7 separate regions of the Homo sapiens genome follow, and all the other regions are linked to region 6. Evidence: fine-mapped expression QTL. A gene starts in region 6. Each other region holds a variant in brackets. All regions are shown on one strand. Distances are from middle to middle. Region 1 overlaps CYP1B1-AS1 (CYP1B1 antisense RNA 1). Region 2 overlaps LOC107985871 (a long non-coding RNA gene). Region 3 overlaps LOC107985871 (a long non-coding RNA gene). Region 4 holds the start of CYP1B1-AS1 (CYP1B1 antisense RNA 1). Region 5 has its middle 120 kb from the start of ATL2. Region 6 holds the start of CYP1B1 (cytochrome P450 family 1 subfamily B member 1). Region 7 holds the start of LOC107985871 (a long non-coding RNA gene).

Region 1 (4,066 bases), 98 kb after region 6:
GAGATCTCACACAACACTCCTCTGAAAATAGGGACAGCTAATTTTGTAATGGATTGCCAGCAAAAGCTGTGACAATGCCTACTCTGGAAGTCTCTAAATTTCTTTTCAACCTGAGAAGGGTGTTCCATGATATTTACTGGAGTAAGAAGTGATGGAGGAGGTAGAATAGTTCTGGAAGTCAGGTCTCTAAATAGAACAAATCTTGGGATCCTCCAAGTTTCAGTCTATGCATGGAATTATGTTTAAAGAGGCAATATCTAGTAGCTAAATAATAGCTAAAATTGTTCCAATCATGACTTGCACCTCTCAAAGATCATTATTCAAGTAATGCTTCTATCCTTTCCTCCAGCTCAGTGTTTCCTGAACTTCCCCTGCACTGATGCTCTTGCTTACCTAAGCCTCTTCTTCAGCCTCTTCTCCATCCCTGGACAATTCAATGCACTGCATGGACCTTGCTTAGATTCTGATTTGAGCAAACCAACTTTTCTTCTTCTCCTTCTCCTTCCTCCTGCCTCCTTCCTTCTTCTTTCAGATAGCATCTCTCTCTGTTGCCCAGGCTGAATGGAGTGGTGCAATGACAACTCACTGCAGCCTCAACCTCCTGGGCTCAAGTGATTCTCCCACGTCAACCTCCCCCAGTAGCTTGTACTACAGGCACTCAACACCGTGCCTGGCTAATTTTTGTATTTTTTGTAGAGACGGAGTTTCACCATGTTGCCTGGGCTGGTCTCAAACTTCTGAGCTCAAAAGTGATCTGCCTGCCTCGGCCTCCCAAAGTGCTGGGATTACAGGCATGAGCCACCACACCTGGCCTCAAACCATCGTCAATGCAACACTTTGAAGACAATGAGGGAAATCTGAATTTGGATAGTGTATTAGATGATACCAATAACATATTATTAGTTTTGATAGGTGTGATTAATGGTATTGTGTTTATGTAAGAAAACACCACTATTTTTAGCAATCAACACTTAGATACAGAAAGCTAAAATGACACAATTCTGGGATTCGGTTATCATACATCAGCCAAAATAAAGGAGGAAGGAAGGAAAAATGTACAGAAGTAAAAGTAGGAAAATACTGATAATTCTGGAATTTAAGTGATTGATGTTTGAAGTCCAGTACTATATTCTCTATTTTTGTGTATGGTTGAAATTTTTCCTATTTCCTGGGAAAATTTTCCTTGAAAAACTTTTTAAAGAATTTTAAAACTTCTTTTCAAAAGAGAAAAAGAAGGACTGGGGTGGTGGATCATGCCTGTAATCCCAACACTTTGGGAGGCCAAGGCAGGCAGATCACTTGAGGCCAGGAGTTCGAGACCAGCCTGGCCAACATGGTGAAACCCCATCTCTATTAAAAATGCAAAAATTATCCAGGCAAGTTTCCACACACCTGAAGTCCCAGAGAATCTCTTGAACCCAGGAGCCGGAGGTTGCAATGAGCTGAGATGGCGCCACTGCACTCCAGCCTGGGTGACAGAGCGAGAACTTGTCTCAAAAAAAAAAAAAAAAAAAGGGAGAAAGAGAAAAGCAAATGCAAATATCTTCAAACGTCATAAGAAAAGGCAAAAGTGAATCCGATAAATATATTTTAAAACAATAATAAAAGAGGCATTTTGCTGACAGATAAATTCATGAAACAAGACTGACTTTTTTGAATGCCATTCATAGAACTGCCAGGTCAGCTGTGTAGTGTGAGGTATATTTCAATGCAAAATACTGAAATTATAAAAACAGGATTATGCACACAAATGTTTCAAGCCTTTATAATTTTTTTAAGTCCAAATGGCATAGGTCCATTTATAAAATATTTTCTGAATTTATATTATGATTT[A/C]AACTAGCAATATCCTATTAATTAACTTATTTAAAATTCATAAGGAGACAAGTTATTTAAAAAAAAAAAACACTCTTGAACTGAGTAAAAAATAGCACGAAGTGAGGTTCAGCTCTGGGGAGAAGGGAAGTTGTGCTAAAACTTTTCAAAATGGAATTTAACCTCAGACTTTTAAAGCATCACTTTCTTTAAGGATTCACGGCTTTCCTCCCACACTGGTCTGGGGCCAGTGTCTGGAGTAAAGTATTGCTACTCCTAAATGAGATTTTAGAAAGTAGCATAGTTTCTGAAAGGAGCAGCCACTGGAAACCAAAAACTTTCTCAGGGTACTCAAACGGTTTGAAGAGAACTGATATTTGAAAACGGAAATCCTTCCATTTGTGACAACATGGACAAACCTGGAGAACATTATGCTAAGTGAGATAAACCAGTCACAGCAAGACAAATACTGCCTGATCTTTTGTATATGTGGAATCTAAAATAGTTACTCTCCTAGAAGCAGAGAGTAGAATGGTGGTTGTCAGGGCTGGGGTATACAGGAAATGAGGAGATGTTGGTCAAAGGGTACAAAGCTTCAGCCATGCAAGAGGAGTTAGTTCTGGAGACCTAATATACAGCATAGTAACGACAGTTAACAATACCGTATTGTAGACTTGAAATTTGCTACAAGGGTAGATCTTAAGTGTTCTCACCACAAAAGAAAAGAGGCAGCTATGTGAGGTGATGGGTAAGTCAACTAGTTTGATTGTGGTGATCATTTTCCAATGTATACATATATCAAAACATCAAGTCATATACCTTAAATACATGCAATTTCTATTTGTCAGTTATGCCCCAATAAAGCTGAAATTTTTTTTTTAAATGAGAACTGATGTTTGCATCCAGTTGCTGCTAAAGGCACAAATTTTCTTTAAAAACTATTGAATGATTTTCCAGCTCTTACAGACATACTGGGAAGAAAAAAGTTAAAAACTATTTGAGAAATTTGGATTGAACTACCTCATCCTGTATGAGGTAAGGCCAATGTGCAATCTTGCATTGCTAATCACTCAAGCAGAGTGCTCAGAAGCTGGGAAACAGGCTGCGGTTAAGAACATTGCTTAAGGAAGAATAATTAGATCCTTTCCGTGTCTCATAGCCACAATTTTTTTCCAGCTTTGGCTGTTGTTTGAGCAAGACCTTGTGTATCAAACATTGATCTAGCCAAGTGGCTTAGTGGAGAATTTGCTCAAATTGGTTTTTTAGTATCTTGTTGGCAGGAGGGGAAATGACTGCTTGAACGTTTCAGCCTTAATGCTGACATGTGGTGACTTGAAGCCAGGTGAATGAAGGTTCCTCCAGCTAGAGAGGTAAGATGAACATGCCGGACCAGGAAGAAAGCAGGTCATCATGTTAGACAGGTGCAATTATGTGCAGAGACTATAAAAGAAGAGAAAAAGACATTTAGTCATCAGAGAGCAGCCATTCAAGTAAGACCTTGAAGGAAAGGGAGGGTGAATCAAACAGAAAATATAATGTAAGCAAACGCACAGAGGCTATACTGTGGAGAGGATGTGGGGAAGAGGGAAGTGGTCCATTTGACTGGAACAGAGGGTAAATTTAAGGCAGTAGGAGGTCATAAGACTTATGGAAAATTTGGAATGCCAAAATGGGACTGTTATGTGTTAGGTTGATACTGGGTGGGGGCACTGAGGATTTTTAAAACGTGATCAGGGCTGCCTTGTTGAAGGTAAACCTAGCGGTGGTAAGTCAAATGAAATGGAGTCATGAGAGAACAGGTGGTACTAATCACTACCAGTACTGAGTGCTTTGCAGATGCTACTTCATATACATAATCTGATTTAATTCTGATAGCAAGAACCGTTATTAGCCCACTTTACAGATGATAAAATTGAGGCTTAGGGTGATTAAACAACTTGCTCAAATTCACACAGCTAAAGCAGAAGAGGCAGTGTTTTAATCTAGACACAGGTACCTGCCCTTAATCACTATGCTTGACAGCTTCTTAAGCTAGAATGGGTGGTAGGTGACCGGGGTCTGAATTAGGAATTTGGAGGTAGTAATGGAAAAGAGGGATCAAATTCTTAGAGGTAGGATAGGCAAGACTTCACCAACAGGAGCCTACGGAGGTCTGTGATTTGGTGGCTGCGTGAAAAAGAAGAATGATACTGTTACTAACCTAAATAAAGAAACCAGAAGAAAGACTTGGCATCGATTAAAAGATTATTAATAT
Region 2 (4,066 bases), 49 kb after region 6:
GGAGATCTGCCGGCATTGCTATTAAAATTACTTTCAGCAGAATTGTACAATATGACATTATATTGCTCAAAATGACTCAATTTTCTAATCTTTGAGACTTCTTAAAAAGAAATGAACCCCAAGTAGAGTAAAGGTGGACTGCAAAAAACAGCTTAGTCTGAATGAAAAAAATTCATCCTTGGCTCTGCATCTAAGAAACTGGCTGTGTGTCCTCAGACAATTCACTTAATGTCTCAGATCCTCAACGTCTTCAACTGCAAATAAAGGGGTTAGAGGAGATCATCTTTAAAGCCCAACTCAGCTCTAACATACTATGATTGGATACCATACACTTGTCCACATTCTTTTCTCTAGCACTTGGGGATTTCTGCTCTTCCAGCCTTTACAAATACAACCTTTCACTGTCACACTCATTCTTCCTTGTCCTTAAAACAGAAAGCCCAGGCATAGTCTGATGCCACTTCTGAGGGCTATAGCAGGTGGCATCTAGTGTCTCTATAGTAACTATTTACACTCCTAGGGAAAATTATCTCACAGAAGCATAGAGAGCCTGACCTTGTCTATAAAGACAGTAAGGTACAATGATTAAAAGAATAGGCTCTAAAGTCAGGCAGACCTGGGTAAATCTGCCACCTACTAGAGAGCTTGGGCAAGCAAGTTCACCATGCCTGGTACCTAGTGAGTGCTGTGGGCCTCTATTCTGGAGGGACAGCAGGGCCTTACGAAACCAGCATGAGATTGTAAATGCCTTGCAGGCTGGATTTTCAAGAGGAAATGCTACCCCCTTTTTCTCCAACATCTCTGGCAAAATTGCTAACCCAAAGGTACTAGGCCCAGCTAGTTATGAAGGGGATGGAAGTGATCTCTATCCAAGGGAAGAACATTTGAATTGATGTTTAAAGGAGTTGTTTAGATTCTTATGAAGGAATAGAGGAAGAGTAGAGGCAAAGACAGAGAAGGGGATGGATGAGAATAAAGAACAAGAAAAGAAGCAGTAGGAGACAAATGAGAAGGTTAAAGCTGATAATTTTTACTTTTATGATAAAAGGAATTTCTAAGCAAATTCTAACCATTTTATCAAGAAGAAACAAATTCACTAACTTATATTTCTGCTTAAAGAAATGCATGGGCATTTTCTTCGCATGTGCAGTTTGTTTAAAAATTAGGCATTGAATGCTTTTTAAAAAATATCTAGATCTATTCTGGACATGCACATTCCAATTGATAGATAGATCAAAATGTCTGATTTTCTTACTGGTAACTTGGCACCAGTTGCCAGTGGCTTCATATGAACCTATCAGCTGCTGTGGGATGGCAGAGCAGTTAAGAGTCCAAGACTAGTCCACGCAGGCCTGCAGCTCCCACATTCTGATGCATCAAAGCCACAGCAAGTTCCTAAAACATAGGCTCTGGATCCAGATGCTTTTGGTTCAAATTTTCACTTCATTATTTCTCAGATGTGTGACTTATGGCAATTACTTACTTCTCTAAGGCTCACTTTCCACATCTGTAAAATAGGGCTAATGATAGTATTTGCTTCATAAGATTGGGGATTGAATGGGATAATGCACTTAGCTCAATACTCACCCATAAACTTTTTTTTTTTTTTTTTTTTTTTTTTTGAGACAGAGTCTTGCTCTGTTGCCCAGGCTGGAGTGCAGTCGTGCGATCTTGGCTCACTGAAATCTCCACCTCCCAGGTTCAAGCAATTCTCCTGCCTCGGCCTCCCATGTAGCTGGGATTTCAGGCACACACCAACACCCCCGACTAATTTTTTTGAATTTTTAGTAGAGACAGGATTTTACCATGTTAGTCAGGCTGGTCTCAAACTCCTGGCCTCAAGTAATCCGCCCACCTTGGCCTCCCAAAGGGCTGGGATTACAGGCGTGAGCCACCACTCCCAGCCAACAATATTCAATTACATACTCAATTACTATGTTCTTTTTCTGGTAACTAGAATGTAGGATCTTATGATTGGCCCCAAGTTCAAAGATATGGGCAAGTAAGTATAATATAAGAGTGTAGATACAGATTTTGTAGGATATATGCCATGGCCTCTGTCCCATATCAGTTTAATACCTATTTTCCAAT[G/A]TAATGCCCTGAAATCCCAGAAGAGGAAAAAAGAATTTTTTTCTAACAATTAGAAACATGATAAAAAAAACTATCAAAGGTATATTCATTCAGCCATGCAAATTGTAAAACCATAGCAATCATTCTATTTGTTTGGTCACAGTTTAAAAAAGGAAATTTGCTATAAGAAAAATAAATACAAACAAACACAAAAAGAGTTGAATGCCACCTGCAGAAGAAGCACCAATCCAACTATTTTACCCTGCCCACATTCACCATGTTTCTCACAATTGCCTATAAAAAGTAGTCACCATTTATTGTACCAGGCAGTGAGCTAAGTGCTTTATGGACCCTGTCTCGTTTAACTGTCCCCAGAGTCCTATGAGTAGGTATGTTAGTGCCATGCCCATATCACGGATAAGGAGATATGCCAGGTCAGAGAGGCGAGTTGGGATTCACACGCAGCAGACTTGCTCCAGGGCCTGTGTTCTCAACACTGCATGGTGCCGCTTCTGATCTGGATTGTTAAATCTCAGCACCCAGCACTCCTGGCTTGGGTAGAAGGGAATGGGCCCAGAGGTGCTGAGAATGGATCTCATGTACACCTAGGGTCGAAGTTGGAACAGAGAGTATGTGGAGAGCCTGGGCTAAGACTGAAGCCGCCATGATGAAAACCAAACTCAAGCAGTCTTGTTTTTTAAAACCAATGGGAGTAGTAAAGTATAAATGTAAATCTCAGTTATCTTATCATGCCACCCTATAGGTGTTTCCAGTAGTTACTTTAGAGCTATCAAAGATACATCTGAAATAACGGTACTGTGTATATACTTGAGTCCTCTTCCCCAGCTTGACACTCCTAGGAGTCAGGTGTTCTCTGGGCCAGATCATTTGCCCACAAACATAGCAATATGCCTAGCCTTCTCATTATATAAGGTCCCCCATTATATGGGGGACCTTATATAATTTCATCATATGGATGAAAAATGGGATTATTTTATTATTTGACTCTTCTCTCTAGGATTCAAAGTGCTTTTATTTATAGATTTTCATGATTTAACCAATTCACCCAAGAAGTAGGAAGAGGGCAGCTTTATTATTTTCAAATTGTGGACTGAGAAACTGAGATATGCAGAAAGAAATAAAGCTGCTCTGCAATTTGGAAAACCATCTGTGATGCTATAAAAACGTCTCACTGTACTCTCAACCACATAAATCACTATTTTTATTGCCTTCTCTCTGGATGAGATGTGGCTTAATTTGAGAGAGCTGTTTATCATTTGGCAAGCTGAAAGAACCTAATTTCAAGTCTCCATTCTAGTGGGTGGTAAGAATAAAGGGAATTTGCTTTAAGGGAAGAGGAAATGATAAGAATGGGAAGGAAACGGTTAGACCTAAAAAAAATCGATTTTGAAACCCTTTGGATTATCATGGATTTAATTTGCCAAGCATGGGTGAGGGGTCACATGGAATGGGTTTGAATTCTAAGCCACCATTATGACCACTCACTTAATGTTTCTTCCTACCACTCCCATTCTACAGTGAGCCCATGATTAAGATAACAACAGCTTAAATGAGTTAGTGCATAGTATGGTTTGGCTCTGGGTCCCCACCCAAATCCCGTGTTAAATTGTAATCTTGAGTGTTGGACGTGGGGCTTGGTGAGAGGTGATTTGATCATGAGGGTGATTTCTAATGGTTTAGCACCATCCCCACAGTGCTGCCTTATGATAGAGTTCTCAGGCGATCTGGTTGTTTGAAAGCATGTAGCACTTCCGCTGCCCTTCTCCTGCTGGCCATGTGAAGGTGTGCCTGTTTCTCCTTTACCTTCTGCCATGATTGTAAGTTTCCTGAGGCCTCCCCAAAAGCAGAAGCCTTTACAGCCCACAGAACTGTGAGCTGATTAAACATCTTTCTTTATAAATTACCCAGTCTCAGGTAGTTTTTATAGCAATGCAAGAACAGACTAATGAAGAAAATTGGTACCAGAGAAGTGAGG
Region 3 (4,066 bases), 40 kb after region 6:
TTTCTTAACTGGCTTCCTTCTGGAGCCCAGATTTGTTTTTCCTTGCTCTCTTAATCTCTGTTCACTATTTTCTATAGAAATTACTTTAGAGAGAAACCCTCTTCCAATTGTATTTAAATCCACCCCCCAAATATAATTTATTCTCTTATGAAGCTTTGAAATGGAAAATTTTCCCCAGAAGTAACCAGGCATTGTGCAAAGTCGCATCCATTTTGAACACCAAAGCAGCTGTAACAAATAAGAGATGACAAATGCCATTGTGTAATTTAGTTCTTCATATCAGTTTGTCATTCTGACTCCTTTCTATTTAACTGGATGCTTTGTCAGACTTTGTAATCTAACCATGTGAAGGGCAGTGAATAAAGGATTAACGAAACCCTTTCCAGTTTTGCATGAGCATTTGATTTTTGGCTAACTTCCTAGCTCTGTTCCCATGGAAACCTGATAAAGGAAAGTACAAGTGGGCCCTGATTGGTAAATCCTATCTGGATTGGGACAACTATAAATACCAGAGAAGAAGCCATATTTTCGAGTTTCCCTAAGTGCAGTGACCCTTGTAACTGGCATGACCTTGAGAAGACCATGAAAGTTATGGCCATGGAGTTCCTCCAAGAGATATTAGCTGCTGTGAAATACAGGGCCTCTCATATAGTGTGGCCTCCACACCCCACTGATGTGAGTCTCATTTCTTCACAACTCAGTCCACATGGGGGCCAAAGAGAATAGCTTCTGCCCACTGTGTGGATGGCTTTGTGGTCTGCTGCGAGGTCCCGCAGAAGAGGAAGTCTGGATGTGCCCTACTGACATGCTCTGCCTCCTGGCCTATGAATCTTCTGGGTCAACTGCTGTCTAGAGTGGGCCTTGGCAGTCTTGTGAGTTTGCAGGTTTAATAGAGCCTTATGAGACCTCCTGGTGGGTCTTGTGGATGGAGGTTTTCACTTTTACTGGTTTGAATGAGTGCATTTGCCTGTGAAGCTGTGAGCATGAGACAATGTCCAGTCTTATGGTTTTTACTAATTGCCAGTTTTTCTTTACAAATTAAAAAATAATTTTGTAATGAAAATTGGCAGGTCCCACTTGAGAATATTATACTAAGTGAAATAAGCCAGTGACAAAAAGACAAATACTTTTTTCCACTTCTCTGAGGCACTCATATTCATAGACATGGGAAGTAGAATACTGTTTGCCAGGGGCTGGGAGAGGAGGTAACGGAAAGTTGCCGTTTAATGGATGCAGAGTTCCACCTTTGCAAGATGGAAAGAGTTCTGGAGACTGGTTGGACAACAACATGAATGCACTTAACACTACCGATTGTGCACTTGGTTTAAAAACTGCACATTTGTAAAATGGTTAACGTGGCAAACTTTATGTTATATGTATTTTACCATAATTTAAAAATTTTTTTTAATTGACAGTTTCCTCTAAATATCACACTTAAATCATGTTTTCAATACACAGACTAATTCTAAGTGTTTCCAAATTTCCTTCTAAGTAATATAGGAAGATTTTGTGTTACTTTTCCAATTTCATCCTGCAACCACGGTTAAAAATCACTACTATTCACTTCTTACCATTTGATCTGTTGACAGTTTCAGCCATCAGTCACTGCCGGCTCCCACTTCATTTAGTTACCATGTCCCTCACTAACACAAGATCGCC[G/A]TCTAGGGGCCAATCGTAGAACTACAGGCTACACAGAGGAGAAGGGAGCCAGGCCACCTTTCCCATGCATCCCACTCCTTGAACAGAAAGAGCAACTAAAAAGGGAGGCAGGAGTTCTAAGCACCATCTTTTTTTCACCAGTACAGTTTCCAAGATCTTGCTGCTATGAAAATAAAGATCTCCTAATATTTATAGTACTTGAGGTTAGAATAGTCTTCTAGGTAGAGTACTAATATCTTGCTGATAAAGCTTTTGATGCTGAATCCTTGATTATTCTCTTAATATAATATCTTCTGTGCGAATAAGGCTAAAATGCTTGCATACACTCTTGTACTCACTTAGGAATGTAATAGAGCAGTTTGGGAGAGTGACTGAATGCTTCTGCTTTGGGCAAATTTGCCACAAAATCATATTATGCAATCACAGGGTCACAGAACATTAGAACTTAAAGAGCTTTAGAGGCCCGTGGTCTCTAGCAGATCCCTTTGAGAGTCTGATAAAAATTAGAGGTTTACGTACCATAAAATGCTATTTTGCACAAAGCTTTGAATACCATTTTAAAATTTCATCATAGATGAAGAATTCCAGCTTGAATCCCACCCCATAATTTGGAAGTGAAGTTTCTGAGAAGCATCCTGTGTGAAGAAGCAGCTAAACAGAGGGGAATGGGAGTCAGAACTGGATGTTGGAAAGAGATGTGATCCCACAGACAGTGTAATGCTGGGTTGGAACCAGCCCTGGTCAAACCCATTCCCCCGAGTGCACATGTGTTCCAGGGAGAAGCTTGCTGGGGAAGAGAGCAGCAATTTGCCCACCAGAGGCCCAGATCTCCTGGGAGAAATCAGCTGCCATGGAACAGGAGTTTTTCTTCATGCTAGAAAGGGAAAAGAACATGAATAAGTGGCAATCCAGGGACAGCCAGAAGGAACCTGGACAATGGCTCACCGGCTGAGCAGAGATAGAGTTGCACTGGGTGGGGGGGGCGGGGGTGGGGGGCAGTTGACAGCAGCCTGGATTGTGAGCAAGGAGTACGAAGAAATAATAATTGAAGTAGCAGAAGGTAGCAAGGGGTGCAGACCAAGAGCACAGGCACTGCAGAGAGAAGTCTGGATTATTTGTGAGGACTTTCCCTAGGGACTTCTAGAAAGAAATCACTAGTGAGGTCTAAAAGAAGACTGGACTTCCAGTGTGGTGATAGGAACATTGCTCTTTGAGTTCTTACTACAAATGAGGAACTTTGATTTGCCAGGAAACAAAGGGTTCAAAGAACCAATTGTGATATATTTTGGCTTAAATCCCCCCCACTGAAATATGACAGGAGTCAAATTGGGGTACCAGGTAAGTCTTGTGAAGGTGCTGCCTGGGGAGTACCCAGCTGTCTGGCACTTTCATAATATCTTTCTGAACCTCAGTTTCCTCATCTACAAAATGGGATTAGGACTTGTTGAGCATCAAGGTTCCTTCCGACTTGAAAAATCTTCTGATTCTATGACCAAACTGGAAGGCCTGGGTTGGGCTCTCTCAGTTCTGCAGATTTAAATGAGTCATTTCTGAACTGTTGGCTTAAGGCCTATCCTTTTCACTCAAATATTCCCTTGAGGCATCATTTTTTTTTTTTTTTCAAAATTGGGAAAGCGAAGGATACAAGAAGTTGGAAGGAAAGCCCATGAAAGAAAAAAACATTTACTATAATTAAGAAAGAAAATTAAACAGATGATGATCAGAACTGCGGTTATAAATTAAAGTTAACTGATTCCAAGAGTGTACGCCATCAGAATTCGCCCTCATAACTGGAAATTTAGAGGCAGGGCAAGCTTCAAGTTTGCCTAATTCAGCAGTTCCAATCCCATTTCCTTGGGATTCTCAGCTCTGCCTCATCTGTGTTCAGTTTAATTCTCAGGCTGGGGATAACATGGCTATTGCAATAATAGGGCCAAGCTTGACAACATCCAGAGGGAGAGACTCTCTTTTCCTATGGCTCTCTCTTAAAGGTGGAGAATTTTCCAGAAGCCCCAGCAAACTTCCCCATAAATCTTATTAAACCTAATTGGTCCATATGCCTATTCCTGAACCTCTCACTGGCAGGGGGATGAGATTATACTTAGACAATTTAGGCCTAACCTGGAAGTACAAAGACTGCAATGGGGAAGGGGTGAATATTTGAAAAAAATCAGGGTTTGTTGGAATGAAGTGAAGAATGGCTGCTGGGCAGACAGTCAGCGGTATCTTGTCAGAATCAGCTGTTGAAATGCAGTGGGGCGTATGACCATGCTCCCCATTTAACAGATGGAGTAGTTAGGCCCAAGGTCACACAGTTGGGTTAGAGCTAGGGACAAAGACCTTTCTACTCAAAACCCGAGGCTTCTCTATGTACATTTCAAAAGGCTTAAATTTTGGCTTATCTTTT
Region 4 (4,066 bases), 54 kb after region 6:
TAACTTGTTTTTGATTTTACAGGCTCATAGGTGGAAGGGACTTGCCTTGTCTCCGATTAGACTTTGGACTTGGACTTTTGAGTTAATTCTGGAATGAGTTAAGACTTTGGGGGACTGTTGAGAAGGGATGGTTATATTTTACAATGTGAGAGGATATGAGATTTGGGAGGGGCCAAGGGTGGAATGGTATGGTGGGGCTTTGTGTCCCTACCCAAATCTCATGTTGAACTGTGATCCCGAGTGCTGGAGGGAGGGTTTGGTGGGAGGTGATTGGATCACAGGGGTGGTTTTTAATGGTTTAGCGCCATTCCCCCAATTTCTTAGGAAATCTGCTTGTTTGAAAGTGTGTAGCATCTCCTTTGCCCCTCTCCTGCTGCTAATGGCCTGTTTCCCCTTCACCTTGTGCCACGATTGTAAGTTTCCTGAGGCCTCCCCCAGAAGCAGAAGCCTGTACAGCCCACAGGAACCATGAGCTGACTAACCATCTTTTCTTTATAAATTACCCAGTTCTTTATGGCAACGTAAGAATGGACCAATAGAGCACATCACTAGGGTAGCACAAAGGAGAGGGCCCAGAAGCAGAGGAGAGATAAACAGCTCATTTTTTTCATCTTTCTCAATGTTTCTTGCTCACTCTCTGTTGTTTGCATCCATTTTTCATTTCATCCCATTTCCTCTTTTTTCCCTTTCATTTCCTCATTTTGGGACAGCAAGAGGTCATGTTCTTGCTGCCAACAGTTACGACATTTTCAGTAGTCATGACAGCCACAAAGCCAGGGCTGGACTTGTCCAGAAGTCTGATCTGCAGCAGGAGGGAGTCTGTAGTGTGCAGGGGCTCTCCAGCTGTCACTTAGATCCCAAGCTGCCCCTTCACTTTTAATTTTGCTGATGGTGGCTTTTGTCAAAGGCAATTTAAAATTTAGGGCTAGGTAGTCTAATCTGTCAATCTTTTCTTTTCTTTGTGGTTTCCAGGTTTGTGTCTTACTTAGGAGGGCCTTCCCAATGCTAAAATTATATATATAAACAGATATACCACAATTGCCTAAACAGAAATTTGGGCAAGCTGGCACATTTGAAACAGGGCTGTCTCCTAAAATTTGGAACGTGTGGATAGCGTGCATATGCTTGGACTCTAGGACTTACTTTCTCTGGAAAAATCCGTCTAGCTTCCTCACTCACTGCCTCTGCCTCCCAGCTCCAGCCTAGCCATTTCATCTTATGGTGGGGGAGCACTCAGTTGCTAGGGCCAGAAACCCACTCAGAGTAACTTAAGTAAATGGGGATTACTTGCACAGTGATAACGGAATACTGTGAAACCCAGTTTGAAGAATTGCACCTGGATCACTGAAGGGCTAGAGTCTGGAGCTGCCCTTCCTCCTCCCTTTCTCTCAGTTATCTTTGTCTCTGCTCCATCCTCCCCCTTCGTCAAGCATACTCTGTTACCACATGACCTTAAATGACTGTCTAACTCAGTCCTTGAGCCCACAGAATCTTGTGAGTCTAGCACTCACAGATAAAAAAACACCCTCAGGCTTTCTGTGTCCCAACTCCAAGTTCTAGATAAAGATGTCTGATTGGTTAAAGTGGGTCATGTTTAAAGTGGGTCTACTCCCAATTCAGTTATTGGTGGCCAGGGCCATGAGCCACATGGTTGCCCCTTGGGGCAGTGGGCAAGGTAAAGTTCACAAGATGTGGTGGGGAGGAAATGACCACTGTAACTCTGTGGTCCAGTTCCCACACCCATATTGTGATTTTTGCTCCCCTTCAAGTTTGCCCTTGATGTTGTCTGTAACTGAATTCTGTTTTCTCCCATGGTTAGATTTATACCAGATCCAGGACCTTTTAGGGAGGGCTGTGGTCCTGTCCCCTTGGGGAGGCTCTGATCTAAGACTGCTCCCTCATGGAAATTAAGGAGAAGGGGAAAGCCTAGGCTACAGATGGAGAAGGATGAGTCATTCCAGCAGCCATGGCCAAGGGAACTCCTGGAGACGTAGGGACTGTTTATGTGGCCACTCACCATCATGCAGGCCCCCAATGGGGGTGAGGCAAGGAAGGACATAGAAAGACTGCTCAAGTGCATTTCTGGTTTTGCTTCCTACCGCAAACGACTCTTGTCATATGA[C/A]TGGGGGAGTGTGGTGGTGGCAATAAGCAGAAAAATTTGAGTCTAAGAGTTGCTTTCTGAATTCTATTAGGGTCAATGTAGTCTAAAGAAGTTGACTTTTGAGGAAATAAATCTTTTCTGTTTTCTGCAGCCAGACTAAGGATTTAGTGGTGAATGGTAGGTGGGAACATAGTGGGACTCTGACTGCTCATACGGCCTCTGTGAGGCTCAATTCTTTTATCTCTAAAAGAGAGAACTGTCTACCTGGTAAGAGAAGATCTTTTGGGAGCCCACTAAACTCTAACATAATGTTATTATACAGTAAGTTCTCACTTAATGTCATCGACAGTTTCTTGGAAACTATAGCTTTAAGCAAAATGACATGTAACAAAAGCGTTTTTTTCTCATCAACGTTATAACAAAACGTTAAAGGAAGTGACATTATTTATGAACCTGCTGCATGTTGTTTTGCTTAAAGTTACAGATTCCAAGAACCTATCGATGACATTAAGTGAGGACTTACTGTACTAGTATCATTTATAACTTATAAAAATGACTTAATTAATATACCACAAAATATGCAGCTTTCATGTTAGAGACCAGATAAATATGAATATTTTGTTAAAATGTCTCTCTTCTCTACTTTACCAGTCTTCACCAACCTCCTCCCTCCAGAATATTCCTCAAGAATATAAAATGCCTCATCAACATGAGACAACAGCAGGAAGCACCCATTCGTAGTAATCCTCTGTATGGAGGAGGCTGTTACATAACCACAAAGGCACAAAGCTGCAGTTTTGAGAACATCTTCCCACGCCAGTTCTAAGCATTGACTTCAACTATGGTTGCTAACACAAGAATCGGCACTGGTGACTTTTGAGCCATCAATCATCCTTTCCTAACACATGAATCTTTTGGAAAAGTATGTGAGATTGGAGATTACCTGTGATGGTTTGGATTTAGATTTTGCCTCCAGGTTTAGGCAATGGTAAATAGGCAGGAGTTTAATAGGAACTAAGGTTATTTGATAATTCCTGGGCCACTGCAAATAGAAAGTGTTGGCAATTTTGTCTTTTGGGCTGCCTCTGATTGAAGGCACAGGCCTGTTTCATGAAGTTCTGAAACATGAACCGGCTGTATCTGCGTCAAAGTCAGTGGTAACCAGGTTAATAGCACTGACAACCATGTTCTTTTTACAGGAAACACAAACGTGAATCACTTGTTCTTACTTTTCTTTTACAGTGGTCTCAAATAGTCAAGACCCCCTGCTGGGAGGAGCTTCTATCCTGCTCTGTGGAAGAAATGGGCATGCCAGATGCCTGGAAGATCAGAGGCTCACATTCCAGGTGGGTCACCCTGGTTCTTCTCATCAGAATCAACTAGAGAGATGGGCTCCCTCTCCATCCCTACCCACGGGCATTGGTCAGGCTGAAAGCAAAGAAAGACAATCCATTGCCCCCAGGAGAACTGGTCTTACTCTAAATCAGTGGCCTGCAAACTGTTTATGTGGATGTCCGGATAGTACATTTTTTGCCTGTGTGGGCCTTCCAGTCTGTCTTAGTTACTCAACTCTGTGATTTTTGAGCAACCATTAGACAGTATGTAAATGAATGAGCATGGCCCCATCTGGCCCTCCACCCACAGGCCATAGTTTGCTGACTCCTGCAAGAGTAAAACCCTTTATGAACTAGAGAGTTCCAGGCTTGAACATGGGTCCAGAAAATATGGGAAGGCAAACCTCACACATTTGTGGTTGTGTGCCTCCTAAGTGCTTTGTGTCACTGTTGGCTTCCAATTCCTAGGAAGGGCCTTGGGCACCAACCGTATGTTGACCCAGGGAGAAAAGGACTTTTGGGAGTGAGAGTCAGAGAATGGGTACCACGTACCCTTCAGATCCCTCAGCTTTCAGATTGACACAGCAACAGATCATAGTCTCCTAAATTCTCTGGCTTAAAGCATGGAGCC
Region 5 (4,066 bases), 180 kb after region 6:
GAGTTTGAGACCAGCCTGGCCAACATGGCAAAACCCTGTCTCTACTAAAAATACAAAAATTAGCCAGGCGTGGTGGCATGCCTGTAGCCCCAGCTACTCGGGAGGCTGAGGCAGGAGAATCACTTGAACCCAGGAGGCGGAGGTTGCGGTGAGCTGAGATTGTGCCACTGCACTCCAGCCTGGGCCACAGACTGAGACTCTGCCTTAAAAAAAAAAAAAAAAAAAAAGAGAGAGAGAGAGAGAGAGACAGAGAGAGAGAGAGAGAGAGAGATCCTCCCACCACAGCCTCCGGAGTAGCTGGGACTACAGGCATGCACCTCCATGCCCAGCTAATTTTTTTGTACTTTTAATACAGACAGAGTTTCGCCATGTTGCCCAGGTAGCTCTTGAACTCCTGGGCTTAAATGATCCACCCACCTTGGCCTCCCAAAGTGCTGGGATTACGAGCCACTGTGCCCAGTCATATTTTTTTTTTAAATAGACTTTATTTTTTAGAGCAGTTTTAGGTCCACAACAAAATTGAGCAGAAAATACAGTATTCATATATACTCCCTGACTGCATGTGCATATAGCCCCCACCCCACTATCAACATCCCCCACAAGAGGGATACACGTGTTATAAATGATGAGCCTACAATGACAAATCAATATCACCCAAAGCCATAGTTTACATTAGGCTTCACTTTTGGAGTTGTACATTCTATGGATTTGGACAGATATATGGCATGTATCTACCATTATACTATCATAGAGAGTAGTTTCACTGCCCTAAAAATCCTCTGTGCCCCGCCATTTCAGCCCTCCCTCCCCCAAACCCCTGACCACCACAGATCTTACTACTGTCTCCATAGTTTTGTCTTGTCTAGAATGTCATATAGTTGGTATCATATGAAGCCTTTTCAGATCGGCTTCTTTCACTTAGTAATACGCATTTAAGGTTCCTCCGTGTCTTTCCATGACTTGATCGTTCATTTCTTTTTAGCACTAATTAATATTCCATTGTCTAAATGTACCACAGTTTATTTATCCATTCACCTGCTGAAGCATATCTTGGTTGCTTCCATGTTTTACAGTTATAAATAAAGCTGCTCTAAACATTTGTGTGCAAGTTTTTGTTCATTTGGGTAAATACCAAGGAACATGATTGCTGGATCGTATGGTAAGGGTATGTTTAGTTTTGTAAGAAACTACCAAACTGCTTTGCAAAGTGGCTCTACCGTTTTGCATTCCCACCAGCAATGAATGAGAGTTCCTATTGCTCCATATCCTTGCCAGTATTTGGTGTTGGCAGTGTTTTGGATTTGGATTTTGGCCATTTTAACAGGTAAGTGGTATGGCCTTTTTTTTTTTTTTTTTTCTTTTTGAGATGGAGTATCACTCTGTTGCCCAAGCTGGAGTGCAGTGGCACAATCTTGGTTTACTGCAAGCTCCACCTCCCAGGTTCAAGCGCTTCTCCTGCCTCAGTCTCCCACGTAGCTGGGATTATAGGTGCCTACTACCATGCCTGGCTAATTTTTTGTATTTTTAGTAGAGATGGAGTTTCACCATGTTGGTCAGGTTGGTCTGGAGCTCCTGTCCTCAAGCAATCCATCCACCTCAGCCTCCCGAAGTGCTGGGATTACAGGCATGTGCCACCATGCCCGGCCTCATTCTTTTTTAATGTCATAGTTTTATGACATGGGCTGCAACATTCTTCTAGAGTCTGCACTTCATTTGATATTTGTTTTTCCTACTACTTTCCTTCTTTCTTCTTGTAACATCTTTGTATATTAAAGATCCTGTGATGGCTCCTTTTTTATTACTTTTTACAGAAACAGTTGATTTTTTTTCCTGTATCAGCTTTTTGCTTTCTTACTCATGTGATTTTCCTGTATTAGCCAACCAATTACGGTGAAAATGGTGACACAGAAGGACAGGGGGAAATGGGGCAACTCATAGTTCCTTTTCCCTTCAGTTGTTCTTTTTCCTTTC[C/A]TTTTCTTTCAAAAAAGAGAGAGGGTCTTGCTCTGTTGCCCAGGATGGAGTGCAGTGTTGCAATCATGGCTCTCAGTCTTGAACTCCTGAGATCAAGCGATCCTCCCAGCTCAGCCTCCAGGGTAGCTAAGACTACAGGCCTGCACCACCACGCCAAGCTAATTTTTAATTTTTTTGTGGAGATAGGGTCTCACTATGTTGCCCAGGGTTGTCTCAAATTCCTGGCCTCAAGTGATCCTCCCCTCTCAGCCTCCCAAAGCACTGGGATTACAGGTGTGAGCCTGTGCACCCAGCTCAGTTTTTCTTTACTCATCAGTAAGTCAAAGGTACAGACTGTTGGTAGAAAGTCCTCATACAAAAAAATGAAATGAAAACAATCTGAGCTCATTTTGTATAGCATTTCCATTGTTCTGGCAAACACAAAATATATATGAATGTACAAACTGAGAAATATAAATTGTATAATTTTAGTGATTCTGCGTAAAATTTAAATGTTCTTCTATTTACATTTAAAATTGCCATTTTATGCTAATATCATTAAATTTTAATTTTTCTTTTCTTAGAACAACAATAAATTTTAAAAACTTCATGACAAGTCGAGAGGGAAAGTACAGAGGAAAGGAAGGAATTTTATGTTTTAGTAATTTTCACATCATTTTTCCTTGATTTTCGAAGGAGGGCCTTGCATTTTCAGGCCCTGCAAATTATGCAGCCAACCTTGCATAGGAGGTTAGTGCTGGAAAGACCTTAGAGATTATCTAGCTCAATCCATTCATCAGACACAAAAGATGGACTGAGAAAGATGAAATGATATTTTGCTTAGGAAATTAAAAGGGGAGAGTAGGATGGGAAAAACTTCCTCCATCTTCAGATCTTCAGGAGTGAACGGTGGTTTCACTGAAAGACACTAAGTCCACGGGGAGCCGCACCTCTCAGATCTGTCTCTTTGCAGGTTGTCTAACGCCCACTCCCTCCCGTGTTGATCTGGGCTTCTCTCACATTAGAGGGCAGTAGAGCCAAGTACCCAGATCCTTTGCAGCTGCTGCATATTTTGGCCCCACGTCCACCATCCTGGGTTTCCCCCTGTGGGTGTCCTTCCCACACATTCAACATCCAAGCAAGGTCCTACACCACCAAGAGAGTCCCGCCAGCCCTGGGCACCTACGGGGACTTCCAGTGGACACGTATTCTATTCTTGGGAACTTTCGGTTTCTAAGAAGTCCACAAAGCCTTTAAAAGTTTGGAAAAAGAGTTGAAAAGAATCGTAAGAGGTAGGATTTAGAGGAGAACGGGGAGTCCCGATGCAACGCCCTGAGTCTTCCTCCCTTAGACAACTTTTTCCTTCCTGTGAAGACAGTATGCAAGGAAAAAAAGAGAGTGCTAGAACTGAATTGGGAACAATGTAATGTCTTTTTCTATTGCTCTGGCAAAATCCTTGCTGAGAAACTGAGAAGTGTTGATTCTGAAAGCTTTTTTAGAAATTCTTTCCAAGGCAACTTAATTCAACAACACATTTAACAAGAGTCTTTTGTCAGACATCCTGTCCTCTGATATTTTAGAAAACACCACACACACACACACACACACACACGTGCACATGCATGTATGCACACACACTTTATTTTCACTTTTCTTCCCATCCAGCCCAAGGCATGCCCAGAGCACAGCAAAGCAACGCTTGGAGCTTTGAAAGGACACCATGTCCTTTCAAAACATGATTTTGAATTCCATCCTGCCTTCTCTCCACCTACATTAAAACTCTTGAAGGACATTTTCTTCTAATACTGTCTTTTTTGGGACTTCTTCATGTTGCCTGCAAATTATCTCTTTTCGAATCACAGCGTTTTGGGCACAGACCATCACTGCCCACGGAGTGATGAAGCAGACCGGGGCTGTGGTTACAGAGTCAGAAAGAAGGGTCTCCTGCCCCAGGGACCACCACACCCTCTCCCAGCATTCAAGCTGCCCAAGCTTTCTCAGAAAACATCTTTCCAGGCCATCACCAGCAGCGGGTTTTACCAAAAACGTCCCACTCTCTGGCTTCCTTGCTGATCTGTGGGCCTTGCTGGATCCACCCGCTCACGCACGGCCCTCC
Region 6 (4,059 bases):
ACTCGCAAGCAGGGGAGGGGACGATAGAGACAAGATAGGAGACCGGAGGGGTCGGGGCACCGCTGGGTGGGGCGCGTGCGCGTGTCGCAGCCCTCACTGTGAGTCCCTTTACCGACGCGATCTTGGTTTTGAGGGGTGGGGACCTGGAGCGAAACCCCAAACCCGGGGCCCTGCTTGCAAACTCAGCATATTCTGTCTCTACTCCGCCTTTTTCAGAGGAGAAAAGACCTGGCCCACGCCTCCCAGAGGCTTTACCTGGTGAAGAGGAGGAGCAGCCACTGCAGCGCGGTGGACAGGGTGTCCTGGCTGGCGCCGAAGATGTCAGTGATAGTGGCCGGTACGTTCTCCAAATCCAGCCGCGCGCCACCACCGTGCGAGTCCCCGGCCGCCTTCTTTTCCGCAGAGAGGATAAAGGCGTCCATCATGTCGCGGGGGGCGGCCCCGGGCCGAAGGCTTTCGCAGTGCCTCAAGAACTTGTCCAGGATGAAGTTGCTGAAGTTGCGGTTGAGCTGCTCGAATTCGCGGAAAACGGTGCGCACCGGGTTGGGGAAGTACTGCAGCCAGGGCATCACGTCCACCAGGCTGCCCGCGCCCACCGTGCGCCCGAACTCTTCGTTGTGGCTGAGCAGCTCACGGAACTCGGGGTCGTCGTGGCTGTAGCGGCAGCCGAAACACACGGCACTCATGACGTTGGCCACGGCCACGACGGTCAGCGGCCTCGGGTCGAGGAAGGCGCCGTCCGCGCTGCCGCGCACCAGCAGCGCCACCAGCTCGCGCGCCTCGCTCAGCACGTGGCCCTCGAGGACTTGGCGGCTGCGCGGCTGGCGCGTGAAGAAGTTGCGCATCATGCTGTGGGCTGCGCGCCGCTGCACCTTCCAGTGCTCCGAGTAGTGGCCGAAAGCCATGCTGCGGCCGCCGGACACCACACGGAAGGAGGCGAAGGCCGGCCGGTCGGCGAAGGCCGAGCCCTGCTGCACCAGGGCCTGGTGGATGGCGCGCTCGCCATTCAGCACCACTATGGGGCAGCTGCCCAGGCGGATCTGGAAAACGTCGCCGTAGCGCCGCGCCAGGCGAGCGAACGAGAGGTGAGCCGCCTGGCCCACCGCCGCCGCGTTTCCGATCAGTGGCCACGCAAACGGGCCCGGGGGCGCGGACCGGAGCTGCCGCCTCCGTTGCCTCAGCAGCCGCTGGCCCACATGCACAGTGGCCAGCACCGACAGGAGTAGCAGGAGCGTGGTCTGCTGGATGGACAGCGGGTTTAGCGGCCAAGGGTCGTTCGGGCTGAGGCTGGTGCCCATGCTGGGGACAGAGAGGAGAAGGCGTGACACTCAGGGGTGCAGAGACAGGAGCGGGCGCCCCACGCCCCTACCCCAGCCTCTGGGGACTGAGTGCCGTTGGGTGGAGAGGTCGGAGCTGACTCTCTGGAGAAATGGCCGAAGACGCCCCTTCCCATCCCCAACCCACTCTCCCTTGGAGAAGAGAAGGGGCGTGTTTCCACCTCGCTGTAACCCAGCGCCAAACCCTTCCCCTCCCCGCAAGGCGCGTAACGGTTCCTGCAATCTGGGGACAACGCTGCGGGCATCGAGGCGGTGGCGCTTGATTTCCTTTAAAGTACCTACCACGCCACCCGCTACCTGTAATAATCCATCTGAAGAGGTCGCCGGGCAGCGCCTCGGCAGACAGACTGACCTGCGGGGAGGTGCGGTTTCCAGTGGCGCGGGACAGCCGGCTCCGAGAAGGAACTGGGACCTTTGCCTAGGGCAAGACGTCAACAGGAACCCGCAGGCCCGGCCTGGACACCTGCTGCCCTCACTGGAAGCTTTAACTCCCACTCGAGTCTCTTGGCGTCGTCAGTGCCAGGAGCGCTTGGATTGGGATGGGGACGGAGAAGGGTGCCTCGCTCGCCGAGCCCCGCTGCCCTTGGGGACCTGGCAAAGTCGAGGTTTCCTCACAGCGTTGAGATTGAGACTGGGGGTCGGTGAGTGGCGTCAATTCCCATGCCCTTGCGGCTCTCACAACTGGAGTCGCAGAAGCGCTCGCTCCCACTCCCACTCCAGAGTCAAAGCGCGCCATCCCGCTCCTCCGGGTTTTAAGGACTGGGTAGAAGGAGGGCAGCGCGACCTGGCAGGGCGGGGCCTGCGGGGGGCGGGGCGCGCCGCACACCAGGCCGCTTTGACCCGGACTCCCGTCCAGGCGCACCGGCCGGCCTCGGAGCTCTACCAGCAGGCTTTCATGGGAGCGGAGGTGCCCACGTTTCCATTGTGCGGTAACCGCGCTTCATCACAGCCACCTCCAATCGAGGCCGCACGGTGTCCCCAGAACCACGCTCGGTACAACCTGCCCCGGCCGCTGCGCTCGACTTGGGAGCGCGCCCCGCCCCGAGCGCACGACCTCCCTTCCCTCTCCGCGACTTGAGCTTGCTTCCCGGAAAGCCAGTGTAGTGGCAGCGGTTTGCCTCACAGCGCCCCTGGTTGGTTGTTTAAATTTTATCTTAGGTTCTCGCAAACAAATTGCCACCTCAGTGGAGGCTCTTTGGCATGCTAAATTTTTTCCAGTTCTTGCGGCGAGATCAGGAATCCCTAAAAGTAGCCGCTCCCCCGCCCCGGGGCCCCGACAGTGCTTGGGCACACAAAGGCTCCTGGGGCGCAGCTGGCCCTGAGATTTCCCGCGTAGAGGCCACTCCAGGTGGCGCCGCCCGCTGGTGGGCGCGGGGCCGCCCAGGCTGCGATGGAAGCCGTTGGCGCAGGGCGGGGAGCCAAGCTGGGGCGACTGGGGGGGCCTGGGGGAGCTAGCGGGGCGGGACCCGAGCGGGGCGGAGAGTGGCAGGAGGAGGCGAATCTCCGCGCTCCGGCGAACTTTATCGGGTTGAAGTTTCTGCTGTCGCCTCCCCTTTGCGTGCGGAGCTGGGCTTTGCGTGCGCCGCTTCTGGAAAGTCGGCTCCAGTCATATCCCTGGGCGCTGCCTGCGGCCGCTCCTCCCGCGCTTCTCACGGCACCTGACACGCGGAGGCGGCGGCCGAGGGTGGGGTGCCGGCCACCACCACCCTTGGCGTGGGGTGCCGGCCGCCACCACCCTCGGCTGCGCACGCACAGTCGCGCCTGCCAGGCCAGCGAGGCGGACGCTTGGGCCACCACCCGCAGGCCGAGCCCGGGCGCGTATCGCCACCTCGCTGCGCACCGGCGGCTCTGTGGTCTTCCTGGGCGCGCTTGCGGTCGCGAAGGGGGCCCTCCCTTTATAAGGGAAGCCGGAGGCGCTTGGGCGGGGGTGGCTTCCCCCGCCTGGCGCGCCCTTTCCTACATGCTGATGCATAGGATTTTCAAGACAGCTAAGAGAACAAGGACTTCACGAGGCGGGGGGAAGGGCGAACTCGAGGGAAGAGGTGGGATGTATCTGGTTAACCAGGTAGGAATTGTACTGGCTTCATCAAAGGATAAATATAAAAGTGATAGGTTCACCAGGGACAACCCTGCACTTTGAGCTCCACTCGCGCTGCGAATCTCGTGCTATTATTGACCTGTTTACAGATGAATAAACTAGGGTTCAGAGAGGTTGCGTGACTTAACCCAGGTCGCGCAGCCATCAAGAAGTGGAGCCAGGGCTTGAAGCCACCAAGTCCCACTCCAGATCCTTCACATAAGTTTACACGGAAGAAAATTGCAGATAAGAGGCCCAAATGCCTTCTTTCCTGCCTCCCTTAAAAAAAAAAATGCACGTGGGGCTAGGCGCAGTGGCTCACGCCTGTAATCCCAGCACTTTGGGAGGCTTAAGCGGGCGGATCACTTGAGGTCAGGAGTTCGAGACCAGCCTGGCCAACATGGCGAAACCCCATCTACTAAAAATACAAAAGTTAGCCGGACGTGGTGGTGCACACCTGTAATCCCAGCTACTCGGGGATCAGGGGGGAAGGCAGCAGAATTGGTTGAACGTGGGAGGCAGAGGTTGCAGTGAGCAGAGATTGCACCACTGCACTACAGCCTGGGCAGCAGAGTTTAAGTGAGACTCTGTCTCAAAAAAAAAAAAAAAAAAAAAATCAGCTGGAAGAACTTTTTAATTATTGTT
Region 7 (4,066 bases), 73 kb after region 6:
TCTCTGTCTGACTCAGCAGTGAGGCCACACAGGCCTCCCTGCTGATTCGAGAATGGCTCCCACCTGAGGCCTTGGGCCCCCCTTGTTTTCGCCCCCACATACCCATCTGGCTTCCCCTTCACTGCTTCCAAGGCTCTCCTCAGAGAGCATCCTGTCAGACCAGTCTTTCCTGGACATGCTGAGTGTACCTTTCCCCTATTTCATTTTCCTTCGTGGCACCTTTTACCACCTGATATGTTCAATGGCTCTATGTTTGTTTGTAGTAAGTCTCGCCTGACTAGAATATAAGACCCATGGGAGAAGAGACTTTCTGCTCTACCCTTGGCACATACCGGGTGCTCAAAAAATATTCAAGTGCTCGCTTCGGCAGTACATGTACTAAAACTGGAACAATACAGAGAACATTAGCACGGCCCCTTCACAAGGATGACACACAAATTTATGCAGCATTCCATAATTTCGAGAAATACAAATCAAAACCACAATGAGATAACATCTCACACCAGTCAGAATGGCTATTATTAAAAAGACAGAAAATAAGAGTTGCTGGTGAGGCTGCAGAGGAAAGGGGAAAGCTTATATGCTCTTAATGGAAACACAAACTAGTTGAGCCACTGTGGAAGACAGTTTGGAGATTTCTCAAGGAACTCAAAATAGAACAACCATTAGACCCAGCAATCCCACTACTGAGTATATACCCAAAGGAAAGTAATTCATCCTATCTTAAAGACACATATGCTCCTATGTTCACTGCAGCACCATTCACAATAGCAAGGACATGGAATCAACCTAAGAGCCCATCAACAGTGGATTGGAGAGAGAAAATGAGGTACAAATACACCATGGAATACTATGCAGCCATAAAAAAGAATGAAATCATGTCCTTTCGCAACATGGATGGAGGTGGAAGGCATTATGACCTCCATAAATGACCTAATGTAAGAACCTAAAACAAAATATTGCATGTTATCACTTGTAAGTGGGGCCTAAACGTTGAAGACACATGATCACGAAGATGGGAACAATAGGCACTGGGGATCACTAGATGGGGAAGGAAGGGAGCAGGGGGCATGGGCTGGAGTGCCACCTGTTGCGTCCTATACTTATTCCCTGGGTGATGGGATCATTGGGATCCCAAGCCTCAGGGTGATGCAATTTACCCATGTAATAAACCTGCATGTGTACCCTTTAATCTATGATAAAAGTTGAAATTAAAACATAAACAAATAAAATCCTGAGTACTGTTTCAAAAAATATATTTGAGGAAAGAAGGAAGGAAAGAGGGATGGAGAGATGGAGGAAGACTAAAGGAAGGATCGTGGCCCTGAGAGAATAGAGCACAGGCCAGGGGTGAGATACAGAGTGAGATGGGAGCTGAATGGGGTCTCTGAAACTAGACATGGAAGACACCAAAAGAAACATTCCTACTTCATCTTTCCCTGTGCCTGGGATAATTTACTCCTGGATGGTAAAGATATGTCTTGGTTTCATCTGTGTTAAATAAACCTGCACGATGTTACAAGCTGGCATTGCTTCATAAGCTTGACCTTAGCTTTCAAATAGGACCTCGATCATTGCTCAATGACCAAGTCACAAAGTTGCCTAATGATATTGGCCCACAGCCATGTTATTGCAAACATGGCAATGACTGGCCAAAACCAGGTGTGCTCCTTACATTTCTGCCCGGGTGATACTCTCAGAGAGCTCCTCGCCATGAGAACTAAGTCAGTCTCCCAGTGCCAGGAGCCAGGACAATTACGGGGCTTTCCCTATTGTGTGTTCTTGCTGCTAACCAGCTCCCAGGCCTAGGCTTCTGAGAAACAGTGTAGGCACACAAGCTGCAGATCTCTCCTCCCTTTATTCTCTCTCCCCTTCCCCAAACCCACAATAGCCTCTACCATAGTGCTTATTCTTTTGACCTGTTCTGATCTGCTAGCCTAACTATTCCCCAACACCTTTAGGAAGATAGGTCTTCCCTGACCCTCAGTCTGAGGTCTAGAAGCCCTTCTGCCTTGCCTCACAGGCATCTTCCCTCCTCCCCCGTCCCC[T/C]AGACCAGTCCAACAGCAGCCCGTGCAGCCTCTGAAGTCCACTCCCAGTGCTAGCTGATGGGAACCCCATGGGCTCCTGTCTGCTATACAAATGGAACAGACTTTCTTCAGAGCCAACCCCAGCTGCCCCACTGAAGCTGGTTGCCACAGTGATTTTCAGTCTCATACCAGATTCTGATCTCTTCTCTTGCCCACCTTTGGTGCTGCAGAGTGGATCATCTTGTTTTATACTCAAGTCATCATTAAAATTTATAGAAAAAGAGAGAATTTAAAAAAAAAAACACTAAAAAATCACCTTGTACGCATATACCTCAGAAGATCTTTGGCCTAATGGTAATCTGTGACATTAAGGCAAATAACCAAAAATATGTAATTTTTCTATTTATTTCTTTGAGTGGGCTCAGTTGCAGATATATGAATCTGACCAGGGTCCTGATCACTTCCTGCTCCCAAAGACCACCCTTTGAGCCTGTAAGATCCAAAGTCAACTCAGTGGATTAATGTGCAAGTCTAGCCTGAGCCAGTAAGACATGGTTCCCTCTAAGATGCCAGGAAAGGACCTAGGGCTTCCCTGGGCTGAGCTCTTAGGTAAGCCATGGCCTGGCCTGGCCTCTTAGAGGTTGTGCAAGACCAGCCTCTGTGATCTGCGAAGGCCCTGAGTCCCAGACATCGTCTCCAACACTGACCTAGATCCAGTGCCAGCAGGACAAGAAAGTCCCCTCTGCTTTAACCTTTACATGAAAAGAAACTTTGAAATGACCAATCCACATTTTTTTTGTTTGTTTTTTTCTGCTTTCCACAGCCCTTTTCTGTCTGTAAAACCAACCTCCTCTTCTTGGCTCATCAGAACACTCATTCTATTTTATGGAATAAAGTGCTGCCCAATTGTAGAATCAAAAATACAGCAAATTAATGTTTTTTATATAAAGTTTTTGATACATAATAATTACACATATTTATGGGGTATCTGTGATATCTTGACACAGCCATAGAATGTGTAATGATCAAATCAGGGTATTTAGGATATCCATCGCCTTGAACATGTATCATTTCTTTGAGCTAGGAACATTTCAAATTTTCTCTTCTGGCTATTTTGAGATACTCAATATGTTTTTGTTAACTATAGTCACCCTACTTTGAGGCTGAATACTAGCGCTTATTCCGTCTAACTATATGTCTGTACCTATTAACCAACCTCTCTTCATCCCACACACCCTTCATAGCCTCTAGTAGCTACCATTCTTTTCTCTACCTCCATGAGATCCATCTTTTTAGCTCCCACATATGAGTAAGAATATGCAATATTTGTCTTTCGGTGCCTGGCTGATTTTACTTAACAAGATGCCCTTCAATTCCATACATGTTCCTGCAAATGATAGAATTTCATTCTTTTTTACGGCTTAATAGTATTCCATTGTGTGTGTGTGTGTGTGTGTGTGTGTGTGTGTGTATCACATTTGCTTTATCCATTCATCTGTTGATGGACACTTAGATTGATACTGTATCTTGGCTATTGTGAATAGTGCTGCAATAAACATGGGAGTGCAGGTCTCCCTTTGATATATTGATTTTTTTTCCTTTGGATAAATACCCAGCAGTGGGATTTCTGGATCACATGGTAGTTCTATTTTTAATTTTTTGAGAAACTTCCATAGTGTTTTCTATAATGGCTATACTGATAAATGAATTTAACAAGGTTGCAGAATACAAAATCAACATACATAATCAATAGCATTTCTATATACCAATAATTAACTTGCTGAAGAAGAAATCAAGAAAGTAATCCCATTTAAAATAGCTATAAAAAATTAATTGTCTAGGAATAAATTTAATCAAATTTAATAAATTCTTTCCGATGAAAGAAATTGAAGAAGACACAAACAAATAGACGTTCCATGCTCATGAATTGGAAGAATTAATATTGTTAAAATGACCATACTACCCAAAGTAATCTACAGATTCAATCTCTTATCAAAATACCAATAACATTCTTCACAGAAATAGAAAAATAATCCTGA

Evidence for each region.
Region 1: its variant is fine-mapped to the expression of CYP1B1 in whole blood (TOPMed, PIP above 0.99).
Region 2: its variant is fine-mapped to the expression of CYP1B1 in whole blood (TOPMed, PIP above 0.99). The same link has a PIP of 0.9 or more in T cells, blood mononuclear cells and monocytes.
Region 3: its variant is fine-mapped to the expression of CYP1B1 in whole blood (INTERVAL, PIP above 0.99).
Region 4: its variant is fine-mapped to the expression of CYP1B1 in whole blood (TOPMed, PIP above 0.99).
Region 5: its variant is fine-mapped to the expression of CYP1B1 in whole blood (TOPMed, PIP above 0.99).
Region 7: its variant is fine-mapped to the expression of CYP1B1 in whole blood (TOPMed, PIP above 0.99).

The regions. Positions count from the first base shown.
Region 1 is chr2:38,171,837-38,175,902 of GRCh38, forward strand. The region is part of intron 2 of CYP1B1-AS1 (CYP1B1 antisense RNA 1); the gene reads left to right. It also overlaps a transcript of LOC107985871 not described here. Among named protein-coding and RNA genes, the nearest start is that of CYP1B1-AS1, 43 kb to the left of the region's middle. The variant A/C (reference allele first, on the strand shown) is at 1,834.
Region 2 is chr2:38,122,736-38,126,801 of GRCh38, forward strand. The region is part of intron 2 of LOC107985871 (a long non-coding RNA gene); the gene reads right to left. Among named protein-coding and RNA genes, the nearest start is that of CYP1B1-AS1, 6.3 kb to the right of the region's middle. The variant G/A (reference allele first, on the strand shown) is at 2,092.
Region 3 is chr2:38,113,765-38,117,830 of GRCh38, forward strand. The region is part of intron 3 of LOC107985871 (a long non-coding RNA gene); the gene reads right to left. Among named protein-coding and RNA genes, the nearest start is that of CYP1B1-AS1, 15 kb to the right of the region's middle. The variant G/A (reference allele first, on the strand shown) is at 1,660.
Region 4 is chr2:38,128,168-38,132,233 of GRCh38, forward strand. CYP1B1-AS1 (CYP1B1 antisense RNA 1) reads left to right here and starts at 2,938. Exons shown (of 3, transcript NR_027252.1): 1 at 2,938-3,023; 2 at 3,344-3,447. All of the region lies in intron 2 of LOC107985871 (a long non-coding RNA gene), which reads right to left. The variant C/A (reference allele first, on the strand shown) is at 2,123.
Region 5 is chr2:38,257,604-38,261,669 of GRCh38, forward strand. No RefSeq gene overlaps it. Among named protein-coding and RNA genes, the nearest start is that of ATL2, 120 kb to the right of the region's middle. The variant C/A (reference allele first, on the strand shown) is at 1,972.
Region 6 is chr2:38,074,091-38,078,149 of GRCh38, forward strand. CYP1B1 (cytochrome P450 family 1 subfamily B member 1) reads right to left here and starts at 2,061. Exons shown (of 3, transcript NM_000104.4): 1 at 1,690-2,061; 2 at 256-1,299. The coding sequence starts at 1,298. RefSeq lists a promoter at 2,042-3,417, cis regulatory regions at 2,056-2,063, 2,984-3,013, silencers at 2,057-2,146, 3,057-3,176 and an enhancer at 2,884-3,082.
Region 7 is chr2:38,147,061-38,151,126 of GRCh38, forward strand. All of the region lies in intron 2 of CYP1B1-AS1 (CYP1B1 antisense RNA 1), which reads left to right. It overlaps LOC107985871 (a long non-coding RNA gene), which reads right to left and starts at 3,106. Exons shown (of 4, transcript XR_007086290.1): 1 at 1-3,106. It also overlaps the pseudogene RNU6-951P. RefSeq lists enhancers at 1-587, 1-701, 1-81, 112-201. The variant T/C (reference allele first, on the strand shown) is at 2,049.